2 linked regions of the Homo sapiens genome follow. Each later gene encodes a partner of the first gene's protein in a complex. Each region holds a gene or a part of one and is shown in the gene's direction. Other genes may lie near its edges.

Region 1 (7,198 bases):
CTTGAAAAGATAACCTGCATTTGCAAAAGAATATATGAAGTATTAAGAATCATAAAAGGCCAGGCATGTGGCTCACGCCTGTAATCCCAGCAGTTTGGGAGGCCGAGGAGGGTGGATCACTTGAGGTGAGGAGTTCAAGACCAGCCTGGTCAACATGGTGAAACCCCGTCTCTACTAAAAATACAAAAATTAGCCAGGCATGGTGGCACACGCCTGTAATCCCAGCTACTTGGGAGGCTGAGGCAGGAGAATTGCTTGAACCTGGGAGATGGAGGTTGCAGTGAGCTGAGATCGCACTACTGCAGTCCAGCCTCGGTGACAGAGCCAGACTCTGTCTCAAAAAATAAAATAAAATAAAATAAAAAATCATAAAATTCAAATGATTCAGAAGACAGGATTCTACAATATGATTCACATTATATTCATCTTTCAATAAATCTAGGCTTGCATTGTGACAGCGAACCAAAATGAGTCTCTATTTTATATTATCCTATAATAAGGCTGTGGGAAGTATCCATTCACACTCTTGACACTGATGTGTTTGAGGTAAGAATAAACAACCCTTATTTAAATGGGCTAAAAGGAAAGTAAAGTCTCCCAGGGCCTATCTGGTTCAAGTGCAGTGTGATAGAGGAGGTTTCTCTCTTGACAAGGCAGAACATCTGGGTCTAGATCTTCTACCTTCTGAATGCATTCCAAGAAGCACAGCTCCCTTTTTTGCATTTTATTTTATTTTACTTTATGGTAAATTAATAAATAATTGTATATTTATGGGGTACACTGTAATGCTTTGATTTGTATATACATTGTAAAAAATTGAATCAAGCTAATTAACATATCCATTGTCTCACCAGCTTATCCTTTTTTTGTAGTATGTTAAAAAATCTATTCTTTAAGCAATTTTCAGATATACAATGTTATTTTTAGCTGTAGTCACCATGCAATGCAACAGATCACTAAAATGTATTCATCCATTCTGAGACTTTGTACTCTTTGATCAACATTTTCTATTTCCTTCTCCCTCCCCTTCCCAACCTCTAGAGACGACATTTCTACTCTGTTTATATGAGATTGACTTTTTTAGTTCCACATATAAGTGAGATCATGTGGCATTTATCATTTGGTGCCTGGATTATTTAATTTAACGTAATGTACACCAGTACCACCTCGTCTTGAATGACAGAATTTCCTTCTTTGTAAAGGCTGTGTGGTACTTAATTTTGTATATATACCACATTTCTTTACCTAGTTATCCAGCAATAAACATTTAGGTTGCTTCCATATCTTGGCTACTGTGAATAATGCTGAATTAAAGTAGGACTGCAACTATCCTTTTGACATAGAAATTTAAATTCCTTTGGATATATACCCAGGAGTGGGATTGCTAGATCATATGGTAATTCTATTTTTAGTTTTTTGAGTTTACTATTTTCCAAAATGGCTGTACTAATTTACATTCCCACCAGCACTGTACAGGGTTCTCTTTTCTCCACATCCTCACCCACACTTGTTATCATTCATCTTTTTGATAATGTCAGAATGAGATATCACCTCACACATGTTAGAATGGCTATTATCAAAAATAGCTTAGGTTTGAGGCTGAGTGCTTTATTTCTCTGCATCCCTTGGTATTCCCCATAGACATGACTGGACTTTCTTATTACCATTTCTTTTCAGGCAGGCTCATGCTTTATATCAAGATTCTGAAACCAGAGGAAATTCTCACACCTGTATATTATAGAAGCTTTAAAGCATCCAAGCACCAGGTTTTAAGAATGAAACAGATCAACAAACAATTCTCATGTTCTTTAGATTGCATGTGATCTATGGTCTATTCCTATAGTGAATCTCCACATTTTCCCACAAAGCATAGAGTGGATTAGGTATGAATAATGCTCAATACTTTAGCAAATATACTGGGTACCTACTCTATTACATCCTCTCTTACAAGTGCTATTGTAGAGCAGGAAATAAATAAGTCTCAGCTGTCATGCAGAAAGCAGTCTAGTGGAACAAGACAGAAAATAAACATATAAGCAATAGCTATTTCACAGGCCAGATAAGCACTAAGAAGAAATACAAAGCAGTTGCTAACTACAATAGGATTCAAATTGTGAAAGTGGGAATTGATAGCAGAGATGATTTGGAGAAGAAGATAATCCATTAAGGATGAAATCAGAAGTTAGGCTGTTGGATGCTTCATCCAAATAGTTGTTGGTATTCAAATGGATGAGAAAGTTTTTAAGAAGGAAAGCAAGAGTTTGAATGGAGGGAAAGACTGTCAACCACAGAATAAATTCTTAATAAATAAGAGTGTCCATAAAGGCAGAACATAATGGCTACCATGTAGCCAGGTAGAAAAAGATGATGAAACTGGAGAACATATCTCCAAAGAAAGAGTTTTGGGTTTGTTTGAGTGTGTTTTGGGAGAGTTGTTTGCTTGTCTTTTTATACAGGGTTTTGTCAACTCTGGATGTAGAGACTTTTTTGAGAATTAAAACATCGAGTCCATCCACACTTCTGACACTGACATCTCTGAGGTCACAATAAACAGCTCCCATTTAAACAGACTGAAAGGAAGCTAATGCCCACAGTGGCGTATCGAGTTCAAGTGTAGTGTGATACAGCCAGCTTCTCTCCTGACACAGAAGAGTATGTGGGGTCTAGAGCTCCCACCTACTGAATACATACTTAGAAAGTAGAGTTTAGAAATATGCTTATAAAGTTCTTAAGGCAGAAATGTTGAAAACAGACCCTCCACTATGTAGTTCCTCCTGCTGAGAAACTCAGTGGGGGAGGAAGGATCCTCAGCTCATTATTAGGGGCACGATAATTGCCAAAACTTTTCAGATCCAACCTGGTAATATTACATAACCGTTATATAACCGTAGTGCCAAATATTTGTCCCAAAACAAATATTTGTTCCAAAACAAGAAAATGGCTAGCTAACTCAGAATATAAAACCAACACCATTAGTTTCCCATCTATTTGCCTCTCATTTATGTGATTGGTTTGTACAATATCTTGGGATCAACTGCCTGTTCATTACACATTATAAAAAGCAGTACTTCTTTTTATTTATTTTAAATATCACATGGAAACTTTGAAATATTTGATATTAAGTTCATTAAATTTATATTGTGTTTGAATGTACAGAAAGGTGTGTAGAATTTTACTGGGTGAAAAGGGATATATGTGTCAGACTGCTCTAAGGGAAGGTTTTATGCTCTAGAAAATTCATTTGCATCATCACCAGAGTGTGGAGAAGAGAAGCCTGCAGTCAGTCAATTGTCCATTATAAAGAAATCAAGTGAATGTTTGATGCTACAAAATAATTATTGCTAATTATAGATGTGATCAGGGTATTGAGTTAAAATCTTAAGTTCTTACCATTCAGAGACATATGCTGATATATTTTTGAAGTAAGTGATGTGATGTGTGCATAAAATAGGGTTACAAAATGAAGGTTCTATGGTGTGGCCTTTGGGAAGAAGGTGCAACCCCTCTGGCCTTCACTCCCAAACTACACTGTATTGCCGCAGTTTTCTAAAATAAACATAATTTTTCCTCTGTCCCTCGTGTTTCAAATCACTAGAGTGGGAAACTGATCCAGAGTAAAAGCCAGCTCCAGCTGACTCTTGACTCTCCTAAAAACAGCTACACACATACTCACACAACAACAGGATTACAAACTCTTAATTACAGCAATGTCCAGATTTGAATGCTGCAGGCTGACAATTGCCCCTCTAAGTTCTGCTGGGGCACCTAGGCAAGGGGAGAGAGAATACAACTGGAGGTTAAAGAACCAGAGTTTTCTGTCTTCCTCTCCTCTCCCTCATTTTCACTCTCCCTTCCCCCTCAGCTGCACCGCGCTGCTCCTTTTCCTCTCCTCCTTGGATGTTCCCTAGCCCCTTCATTCCTTCACGCTCTGCAGGCCCTCTCCCCTCTACCCCTCCTCATCAGCCCCCCGCTCCTCTTCCTCCCTCCCTTCCCGGCAGCTGCTGGAGGAGACGCCACAGCTGCTGCTGTTACTGCATCTGCAGCAGGTCTCTGTCAATATCACCCGCCCACGCCCGATCTGGATGCTGAAGTCGCTCACTGGCCTGGAGATTAGGGCGGGGGAGAGAGTGGAGTGGCTGGGAGAGGGGAGGGAGGAGTGGAAAGGAGACAAAAACAGCTTCCAAGCAGCGGGCGCGGCTCCACTGGACATCTGGGTAGGAGGGGTCTCTGGGTCAGTGGCTGGAGAGTCGCCCCAGTGAGTCGGTGTCTAACTGGCCATTTAGTGGGGCCCATTTACTGCAGAGCCACAGCTGGTGAGGACAGACGCCAGCCTAACAGCAGCTTCTGTACAACTAGAGCTCAGAAAACCCGAGAGATCCGTGGAGAAAGAGAAGCCCAGGAGGAGGAAAGGGCTCCAAGGAGCCCTGCTCCTGAAGGGTCCCTCAGGCACTGGTGGAGACCTGTCGCTTCGTAGCAAGTAAGTGCCTTTTTCTTGCTGCTGTGTCCAGTCCCAGAATGGTGATAGCCGCTATCCGCTGCCAGCCTTTCCCATCCACTCCCACCTGCCCCATCCCATACACACCCTTAGGGTCCCCAGCAGGAGGACAGAGATTTGAAATTGTGGACGTGCATTAGGAGAGTTACTTCAAGAGTATACTTCAAGAGCAGCCGTGGTCTGTGGGTGTTTGCATGGCATGTGCCGTCAGTTTTCTAATTCCATCAGGTAAGCTTCTGAAACCAACATTCTCTGTTAGTGTAAAATTCTAGAAACCCTATATGACAATGACTTACATTACATGGTACAATGATAGTATAAAATGGAGGAAAGGTTATGCAGATTGTTGTACACTTCTTCTAAGAATCCTATCTCTTATTCTAAATAACAGAGATTTCAAGATTGATTTTCCCAAAGGAATAGATAGTATAAAAGTAGAGGCATTGATGTGATTGGCAGTGGTGTGCTCAGTTTAGTCAGTTGGGCATTTTGGTATTGACTAGATCAACAGAGATTGTTGTTGTTGTTTTTGCATTGTTTTGCTCTATAAAATGCATCTCTTCTGGAGGTTTTCTTTTAGAAGTGATAGTGTGACTGGTTGTGTTAGCTTCAAAACTTAGAACATTGGTCAAAACAAGACAAATGATGAGTGCATGTGGAATGACACACCGATGGGCCCCTTTCATTAACGAAAATGATGGGTTCCAGTTTGGATATTGGACTGAAAAATATCTTGAAATGGGAAAGAGTTTGGGTGGTGCTTCTTGTGGATACTTTACCCCACTGCTGTTCATTCAGGAGAGCAATTTATGGCAAAGTAGAAGGAAAGTGGGCCCTGTAATAAACAGAATCCTGGGCACCATACCTGCTATGACTAGCCTTAATTAAAGATTCTATAATCCAGCTGCTGTTTTTACAAGTAAGACCTATAAGGAGTAATTTGCTGAGGCTACCTGGCAAATCAGTAATTGAGCGGGAAGTCCAATGAACAAGTCTTTGGGATTTAGAACTACAAAACTTGATTTCAATTTTTGTACAAATTAAGCCAATTATTTAACTTGAGTAAGCTTTATTTTCTTTATTTATAAATGACACTCCAAAAAGTCCTGACAAAAACTAATTGACAGAGATGATATAAAGGGTTTATGAAAGTACCATATGTGTAACTGTTGATTACATAAGGGATTATTCTGTGTTTTTATCTACTTCACTATTCTGATTTTCCTTCTAAGTCTGATTCAATATAAGCATACAGAGGGCTTTGACATGCATCTCTAGAATGCACTAGAGGAAGTGAAATTCAAATCCTTTTCTTGCCACCTGTACAGTTTAAAGCATATTCTAATCTGAAAGCCTTTATCCTCAAAAAAGTGAAAAGTGTGTGCTTTGGCTAGCTTTGCATATTTAAACCTTGTAATATTCTCCAAATATGCTTTACCCTCTTTCTGTTTTTAGTTTTAAAATTGATTTTAGGTCTGTAGTCCTGTTTCCTGGGGATGAAGCCATCACGTATATTGGATATTGCTGAATGTATTTGGCCCGTTACTTAACATAGGAGAAATCAAAATTTAGGCATAAATACTCTAATCTTGACTGCAAAGATTCATTAAAATCTTGCACCTGGGGGATAGGTACTGTGAGTCCCTTCTTTCCCATGGATATGTTTAAAGTAATAGAAGAAAGAACTCAATTTGTACATGGGCTCAGGAAAAGGGGTCATCAGATCCCAGATGGCACACGACCGTTGGACCTGCTGCTGCATATCAGTCTCTACTGGAGTACTGGAGGCAGAGCCAAGCACTTCAAAACTGGGCATTCTGTCTCCGTAGCCTCGTGTGGTAGATGGTTTGGTAGCGGATATACACTCTCACTGATTTTCCCAAAGTAGGATAAATACCTGTCCAAAGCATACTAGAAATAAAAATAACAGTATTTTCCCCAATCCCTTACTCAGGGATTGGGAAATCTGCACTCCAGCCCTAGATCTCATTGGGTTGAGATACGTGTCACAACTGGGGTATTCAGAGATTGACTCACCATCTACCTACTGCCTTAGACTCCCTCCTGAAAGCTTATGGTGGAGGCATTGGGTAAAAGGGACATTCTTGATTTCTGGGAGTCTGATCCCATTATTTCCACTAACCATTTTCAGTATTTGTCAGTGTGAGAAGAACATCTATAACCTCTGCCCACCCCCACCCCCACTCCAGATATCAGCAATGCACAGTCACCCATTATCACATGAGAAAATCTTGTACAAACAGATGTCACTTTTCTTTTCCTGCGTTGGTTCCTTCTCTTCTGTTAGTGAGGACTAACCAACCAGACAAGTGAGGTCTCATTGCAGCAACATTGAAAGAAGGAGCCTTTGAAGTTAAAGATAAGATTTCATCTGAGGGCTTCAGAGGTTATTTTTGAGTTGGTGCATATCTCTTGACCCAGCTAAGATTATTATTTTACATTCATTTGTTCAATTATTGTTTATTACAAATGAGGCGCCATCTTCTTATATTCCATCCTGAAATTCCTAGCAAACAGATATCCCTGTTGTCTCTGCAGTATTTATAATTGGATTGACTCAGCCTGGTGCTGGACAAGGATAACCAGCTCAATGGACGGCTCTGATGATGGTGTGGGTCAGGTGCCACACTGACTGCCTAGACATCAAAGAGCTTGATAGAAATGCAGAAGCTGGGGCCCCAC
Region 2 (7,444 bases), on another chromosome or scaffold:
TCTCTAATTCCTCCCCAGTAGTCTCAGTGAATGTGTTTCATTCCACAAGAAAACTAACATCTCCCTGAATAGCTCCCATTCAATTCTTTCTTCAGCAGAGTCATGTCATTCCCTCCACCTCAAGATCCCTGAATATCTAGGCTCTGTACTCCATCCTCTTCCTCAATCTCTGAGCATAATTAGCTAAAGTCCCCTCAAAGGAGAAGTGTCCTTAAGTCTAAAGACCCTCTTTTCCCTGGCCTGCCATGGCATTGCACCTTGCTGGGTCTCTTCCTATTTCTCTGACTCTTGGTTTTCTGTTCCCCTATTGATTCTGGCCTCAGCTCTTCACTGTTTCCACACTATTCTCACTCCCTTGTGTATTCATTCACTTGTGTCCTCTGTGAAGAGGACCTAATATCTGCTTGGCACTGATCTAGGTGCAGGACGGCAGCAGTAGACAGAACAAACAAGGCTGCTATCTATCACCAAGGAGAACCAGCCTGATGGGAGGAACAGAAAATAAGCAAGTACATATATTAAAAATAAGATAATTTTGGATAGTGAGAGAAGATATGAAGAACAAGAAACAGGGTGATGAGATAGAGAGTAGCTTCAGGTGAGGAAGGTAGCAGGAAACAAGCTTAGAGTGACCAGGGAATGTCACTCTAGGGTGAAGTCATTTGAGGCAAGACCAAAATGACAAGAAACCAGCCATAGAATGAAGAATGTTCCAGGAAGAGGGGACATCAAATGCTAAGGCTATAATAATAATGATGGGAAATATTAATAGTGGGGAAGAGTTTGATAACTATGAGGTACATTTCTTTAAAATTAAGTGTAATTGGAACATGGTGGACAAGACAGAGAGTGGTAGAAATGAGTGTGGAGAGATAGCCAGGGCACAAGGCCAACATTAGGCCATGGTGACAAGTCTAGATTTTATTTCAGTGTAGTGAGATGCCATGGAAGGGCTTTAAGCAAGAGAAGTTCCCATCTTTTAGAATACAAAGACTGTTCTGTCTACTCTTTGGAGAATAGAGCATATGGTTTCACCCATTAACTGTGAAGGGAGAATGATTATTAAATTGGGAGGCCAAGTCAACAACAATGAGAAAGGATTGAAGCCAAAATGGCAGAAAAGAGGAAGGGAGAGCTTAATTTAAATGATTTTAAAACTCTCAGAACAAGGCCAAGAGTACTTCAGGGAACTTAAGGTACTTGCAAAAGTGACTGAGAGTGACAGCCAAAAATCAAGGGAAACAGCAGGAGAATGAAAAGACTAAATGCTCCTATTTTCAATACAGGAGAGGGAAGAAGTGGTATATGAAAAATAGAGGTGAAATCCTGACAGTGACTATTTACAATGGGGTTGATAAACAATTAGAAAACAACATTATGAATATTAGCAATTCACATGAATAGACATAAGAAAAATTTTGTAAAGCTGAGCCAATTCCTGCTGTGGTAGTTGATAAAATTATCAGACTGAAAATATTTCAGTCTGTCTGTGTATTTCAGTCTTGGTAAGGCTTTCAATAAAGTCATAGAACCTCAAAGACGATAGGAACTTTAACATAATCTATTCCAAATTTCTAACCTTTACAGGTTTTCCTTCCTAAACATCCCAGCAGTTGTTTGGATAACAACTGCTTGGATGTAACGAAAGGTAATTTGTCCTACTTTGGAAAGGTTTGAAATGTATTGCTGAAAATCTGTTTTTGTGTTAGTGTAAGCCATTGATCCTATTTCTTTCCTGTGGATGACTAGATGTCTAATTCCTCTCACAGATTCCTTTTATTCTAAATTTTCAGAATGTCTCATGCTGTACATATAAAAAATAGGGAGCTATGTTTGGGTTTTATGATTGAGCAACTGTTCTAAAGAATTTTAATTAGGCCAGGTGCAGTGGCTCATGCCTGTAATCCCAGTGCTTTGGGAGGCCAAGGCGGGCAGATCACCTGAGGTCAGGAGTTTGAGATCAGCCTGGCCAACACGGTGAAACCCCCTCTCTACTAAAAATTCAAAAATTAGCTGGGTGTGGTAGTGGGCACCTGTAATCCCAGCTACTTGGGAGGCTGAGGCGGAATGATTGCTTGAACCTGGGAGGTGGAGGTTTCAGCGAGCCGAGGTCACACTACTGCACTCCAGCGTGGGCAACAAGAGTGAAACTCCGTCTCAAAAAACAAACAAACAAACAAAAATGTTAATTAGTAGCTCATTGTCAAGGTAGAATGAGGTCTTTAGAAGCAGGCCATAGGACTATCTCTTCTTTTTTTCTATTGGTTCTTTTTTTAAATATCCATGTGTGGATCATGTGATTGTCAAGCCTAGAGATGAAACAAGGGTAAAGAAGAGAGATATATTGGGTGATTGAATCTGAATTCAATAAAAGTATTAACACAGTGTGATAACTGGTTGAAACTAATAAATTTTAACAGCAATAAGTGCAAAGTTTCATAATAAAATTTCCAAAATTGCCTGTACAAGACACAATGACTCTGCAACAAGTCAAGTGAAGAATACTCAGGGATTTTAATTGAACATAAGCTGATTATGACTAAGATGTGGCTGTAAATGTATTTAACTAGTTATATCCTTCAAAGCAAATGTAGCCATAATTCCACTGGATTTATGCTGGTCAGACCACACAGGGACCATCAGTTCCTGTTCTGGACGTCACTTGGAGAATCATGCTGAGAAACTGAAAGTCCTTCTGAAAAAGCAGCCAGGGTGGTACAGGATTGGAAACTACTAGAAAATACATTGGAAGAAACTAAGGAAGAGTAGCCACAAACAAAAATGTCTTAGGGCGGATGTGAGGAAGCATAGCTCTTTTAAAGAGAAAACAGCATTAGGGCCACTTAATGGAGTTTGGAGGGGGAGGAGGAGTGTACGGAATTCAACTGAACATAAAGAACTTCCTTAAGCATCAGAAGAGGTGAACTTGTGATGTAGAAAGTTCTCATCACTAAAAAGATCAAGGCCAGGCGCGGTGGCTCATGCCTGTAATCCCAGCACTTTGGGAGGCCGAGGCGGGTGGATCTCCTGAGGTTGTGAGTTTGAGACCATCCTGACCAACATGGAGAAACCCCATCTCTACTAAAAATACAAAATTAGCCGGGTGTAGCAGCGTATGCCTGTAATCCCAGCTACTCAGGAGGCTGAGACAGGAGAATCACTTGAACCCGGGGGACGGAGGTTGCGGTGAGCCAAGATCGCGCCATTGCACTCCAGCCTGGGCAAGAAGAGCAAAACCCCGTCTCAATAAATAAATAAATAAATAAATAAATAAATAAATAAATAAAATCAAGTCCATTCGTCCGAAATGTTCTTGGGGGAAGTCACAAATTGGAAAAGCGGTTGAATTAGGTCAACTTTAACTTCCCATCCAAATTTAACACAGTATACATGCTTCAAGGCCTAGTCCTCCAAACAGCACAGAGTTTATGGCCTGGTGGCTCCCTGCCCAGGAAGATCCGACTGGGGACATTCTGTTACTCTGTGAGATGTCAGGAGGGAGCATTTCCTGCTTCTGGTCCACTCACCGTCAGCTGTTGCTCTGTTATTCCATTTTGGAATATCAGCGTTAAGCTTCCCCTTTTGGAAAGAGCAGAAGAGGAGAAAAAGGAAGCTGAAGAAGGGCTCTTGGATTACTCTTTTACTTCAGTTCCAGGCGTTCCTAATCTGTTATGTCAATTTGAGTTTATAGTTGAATGTAAAGTTTCAGGTTTCCCTTCCAGAGATGGGGCGGGGGCACTCAAACAGCTGCTAGGACTAGGGAGTGGCTAATAGTTGGAAGACGCCAAACACAATCTATCTGCTTTATTAAAAAGGAGTAATTAAAGGAAAAGGGAGAACTGCAAAGAACCTGGGGAAGGGAAGAGGAGTCCTCTTGGGCCCCCCTCCCCTTGCGCTGACATTTGGATCACCTCACTGAGTGATGAGGTGAAGACAGGAACAGGTGCGCCTCATCCCTACCCCATTTGCCCTAAACAGGGATTATCTTGCTGAGTTTGCTGTGTCCGGGGCCAATTAATCAAGGCTAGACAAAGGATAGACAGCGAGAACTGGAAGGCATGGGGTCTGGGAGGCGAAGCCAGGAACCGCGTACGGCGCGCCTTGCAGATGACATCATTGCCTGAAAGAGCTCTGGCCCTTCTCTTCCCGGAGCTACACCCGGCAAGTCCGTGCGGGAGCGGAGTGGGTTTGCCTGGAGGGCGTGAGCCGAGGGCGGCGGTGCGCCCGAGCTCGGGGGAGGTGCGGAGGCGCGAGAGGGAGACCTGGAGAGACCAGCGAGCGCGCGAGCAAAGATATCCCGGCTGGAAGTGTCTGCGCCGCTCCCGGCTCCGCCCCCGCTCGGCGCGGCGCTGGGCCTGGGAGGGGCACGCCCATCAGGGGGTGGGGAGTGTGCACTAGGGGGAGGGTCCGGGGCGGTGGTGGTGGCGGAGAGCCGCCTGCGCATGTCAGGGCTGACAGCACACACGGCCTGGGGGCCTAGAGAAGGGTTGCTGATCACCTGCCACCCAGGGTCGGGGCCCCGCACCATCCGGGGGCGAGCTCCCGGGAAGGGGCTCCGCCTCTACACCCACCCCCCAACCTCTGACATCGCCGGCCGAACGGGAGCTGCCGCTTCCTTCCCGGCCCCGCTGCACCTCCCCAGGGAGCCGAGGGCGGGCGTGGACGGGACCGACGTGGAACGCATTCTGTAGCCCAGACGGGCGGCCCCGGCGGCTTCGGGAGTGGGGTCACGCCCAGCTGGAGAAGCAGTTAGGGCGGACGAAGCAGGAGCCGCGGGGCTGGGAGGATTCCAGTCGGAACGCAACCGATCCTGGGGAGGCGAGAGGTGAATCAACCTGGACCCTTCCACAGCCTGGCTGCTAGGCCAGCAGTGCGACTCCCTTCCGAGCTGAGCTTACCCTGGGCGCAAACGAGCGAGGCAGGGGCGCGAGTGGAAGCTGGAGTTCCGGGGTGGGCGGGGAGGCGACTGTCCGTGGTGCTGAGCGCCGGCGAGAGCGGGCGCGGAGCGGCTGATCGGCTCCCTCGAACTGGGGAGGTCCAGTGGGGTCGCTTAGGGCCCAAAGCCCCCACCCGGCTCCAAAAGCTCCCAGGGCCTCCCCAGGCACCGGTGCTCGGCCCTTCCTTCGGTCAGAAAGTCGCCCCCTGGGGGCAGTTCGTCCCAAAGGGTTTCCTCGAAAGAATCTGAGAGGGCGCAGTCCTTGACCGAGGGAATCTCTCTGTGTAGCCTTGGAAGCCGCCAGCCCCAGAAGATGCCTGCCTTCAATAGATTGTTTCCCCTGGCTTCTCTCGTGCTTATCTACTGGGGTAAGTACCAGCACCTCGCCATGCCGGATGCAGGTAACAGTAACAATGCTAACAATAATAACACATTGATGTCGTTGGTGACAGAAAAGAGCTCTGGCTGGCTTGCCTCTGTGCGTATCTGCCAGACATGGAGATGGCAGGGGTTCCATGAGAGCTGGGATTTTGAGATGGGAAAGGCGCCTCCCCACCGCCCTTCCCCGCTATTCTCCAACCTCCTTTGGTGGTTCTTCCGCCCTTCCTCCAGTTTCCTGATCATTCCAAAGTATTTTTTCCCTTTCCCTTTGCTGAAAGGAAATGCAGTCACGTTCACGAATAAAAACCTCCTGTGTGGTTACATTTTATTTCTCATCAAGGAGTCTATACTCCTGGAAAGCTTACTGGGTCTTCAAATTCGTTTCTGTATATTAAAAAAAAAAAAAAACCATAAAAGCTGGATGCATGAATTTTGAGAGTGAAAATACTTTAGTTGCTCATCATCTTCTTAATTTTAACAAGGAATGGGAAGAAAACAGCCTTCAGCCATTTACTGCTATATATTAAATAAATAGGCAACTGTGAAATGCATCTTTCTTTTTCTTCTTCTTCTTTTTTTTTTGGTTTGTTTGTTTGTTGCATGAACCTGTGGAACTAAGATGCTTTGGTGTTAGGGGAGGAGAGCTGGGTTTTTGCCTTCAAAGGTGAATAGATTCTTGCTTGTCAGCTGTGAGAAACTGAGGTGACCTTCCCCCTCCAAATAAGGGAATCTTACACTTGGAACAGTAAAGGCTGAAGAGAGTGTCAGAGACGGTCTTGGAGTGCCTGAATGTGTGTAAAGGGGATTGATCTATGTGATAATGTCTGATTGTGTGATTGAGACAATGTTTTACTGTATGTAAATATATTTCAGTGTCTGGATGTGTGCACTAGCATGTGTGTGAGCATGTTGGCATAGACATCTGAATGCATGGGTGAGTGTAGTAGTATGTGTATGGCAGGGGTGGGGGTGGTAGTTCTGGGCATGTCTGCCTTGGTGTCTATGATTAGATCCTCAGATAAAATATAGGTTCTCTTCAGCAGACAGATTGCTTTACATGATCTTAGCTACCTTTCTCCGTGCAAAAATCAATACACAGGGTAATTGGACACAATTGTACCCACCTGCCTCCCTGAAACGAGGCATGTGAGCTTATGTTCCCATGGTTGGCATGAAACTCATCCTGCCTATACGGTGGCAGACATGCTGATGGGAGCTGCCTCTTTGCTTTAGTATTACTTTTTCAAGCCTCCAGGACTAACTCTAGCTGCCAGCATTATCTGGATTTTGCATGTGACCAGAGGCAGAGCCAAGCTTCCTGTCAAAATGCCTGATGAGACGGACTAGGAAGGTTGAGGAGGGAGGTAATGTCAGCCCCAAAGGCGGACTCATCACCAGCCATCCCCAGTAGAGTAGACCAGACCTGGAGATGGAGCAGCTATAATATGTTGCCAATGATCTCACCTGCCTTGAAGATTAAGGCTGAAATTTTCTCAGGGGAGGCTAAGGCTGAGGACACGAGGCTTAGAAGATGTTAGCCTGGCCAGATAAAAAGAGCGTCGGTAAAGCTGAAGTTGTGGATAAGGGTTGGAGTGAGACTCTGCAGAGACTTTCTTCCTGAACTCTAATCTAAGATTTTGAGATCCCTGCCTGAATTCCAGTGGAGGGAGAGAACATGCTATCATCCAAGAATCTTTTAACTAGAACTTGTGCAACCTGCATTGGAGTCTCAGCTTTGCCACTAGCTTACTATATAACAACCTTAAAGTGCTATCTGGTTCCTTCTGTGTAATGTTTGGAAGTTGGCACGGGTGATATCTAACATCCTTTTCAGCTCCACAGATGAATGGTAGAGAAATCTTTGAAGAATATTGCTAGAATTGACAGAGTGCCCATCCCCTCCCCGACCCCAAAAAACTTTGGAAGAAGTGTACACAGTATGCCCATCTTTGCCCATTCTCAGTTTCTTTGCAAACTGAGTGTTGTCTCACCAAACTGAAAAGCTGTGGAAGGGAAAGAGAAGTGGTTCAGGACACTTGGTTGTTAACTGTAAGAAAAACAGCTTCCCTTCGCCAGGCGCAGTGGCTCACGCCTGTAATCCCAACAATTTGGGAGGCCGAGGCGGGT

The links.
Region 2: the proteins of SCN7A (region 1) and SCN3B are in contact, whole or in part, in a cryo-EM structure (PDB 7TJ9), measured with the Homo sapiens proteins. Residues at the interface, in NP_002967.2 of Homo sapiens: Arg269, Glu293, Tyr296, Leu298, Glu299, Leu305, Gln315, Cys316, Pro317, Glu318, Gly319, Tyr320, Asn922, Ile923, Thr926, Cys927, Lys929, Ile930, Phe939, Ile956, Tyr957, Asp959, Gln960, Ile966, Tyr970, Met973, Ile974, Tyr977, Ile978, Leu981; in NP_001035241.1 of Homo sapiens: Val25, Cys26, Val27, Glu28, Val29, Arg44, Ile46, Lys50, Arg51, Glu52, Glu53, Val54, Asn95, Gly96, Ser97, Asp99, Gln101, Asp102, Phe126, Phe128, Ala130, His131, Pro133, Val135, Thr154, Ser155, Ser158, Glu159, Met162, Leu165.

What each region holds. Positions count from the first base shown.
Region 1 is NC_000002.12:166,491,247-166,498,444, reverse strand, and holds the start of SCN7A (sodium channel protein type 7 subunit alpha), read left to right. Parts: upstream 1-4,195; 5' UTR 4,196-4,477; intron 4,478-4,588; exon of another isoform or gene 4,589-4,723; intron 4,724-7,198. UniProt on the Homo sapiens protein: Sodium leak channel functioning as an osmosensor regulating sodium ion levels in various tissues and organs. While most sodium channels are voltage-gated, SCN7A is not and lets sodium flow through membrane along its concentration gradient.
Region 2 is NC_000011.10:123,651,607-123,659,050, reverse strand, and holds the start of SCN3B (sodium channel regulatory subunit beta-3 precursor), read left to right. Parts: upstream 1-4,426; 5' UTR 4,427-4,825; exon of another isoform or gene 4,826-5,224; 5' UTR 5,225-5,249; coding exon 5,250-5,304; exon of another isoform or gene 5,305-5,366; intron 5,367-7,444. UniProt on the Homo sapiens protein: Regulatory subunit of multiple voltage-gated sodium (Nav) channels directly mediating the depolarization of excitable membranes.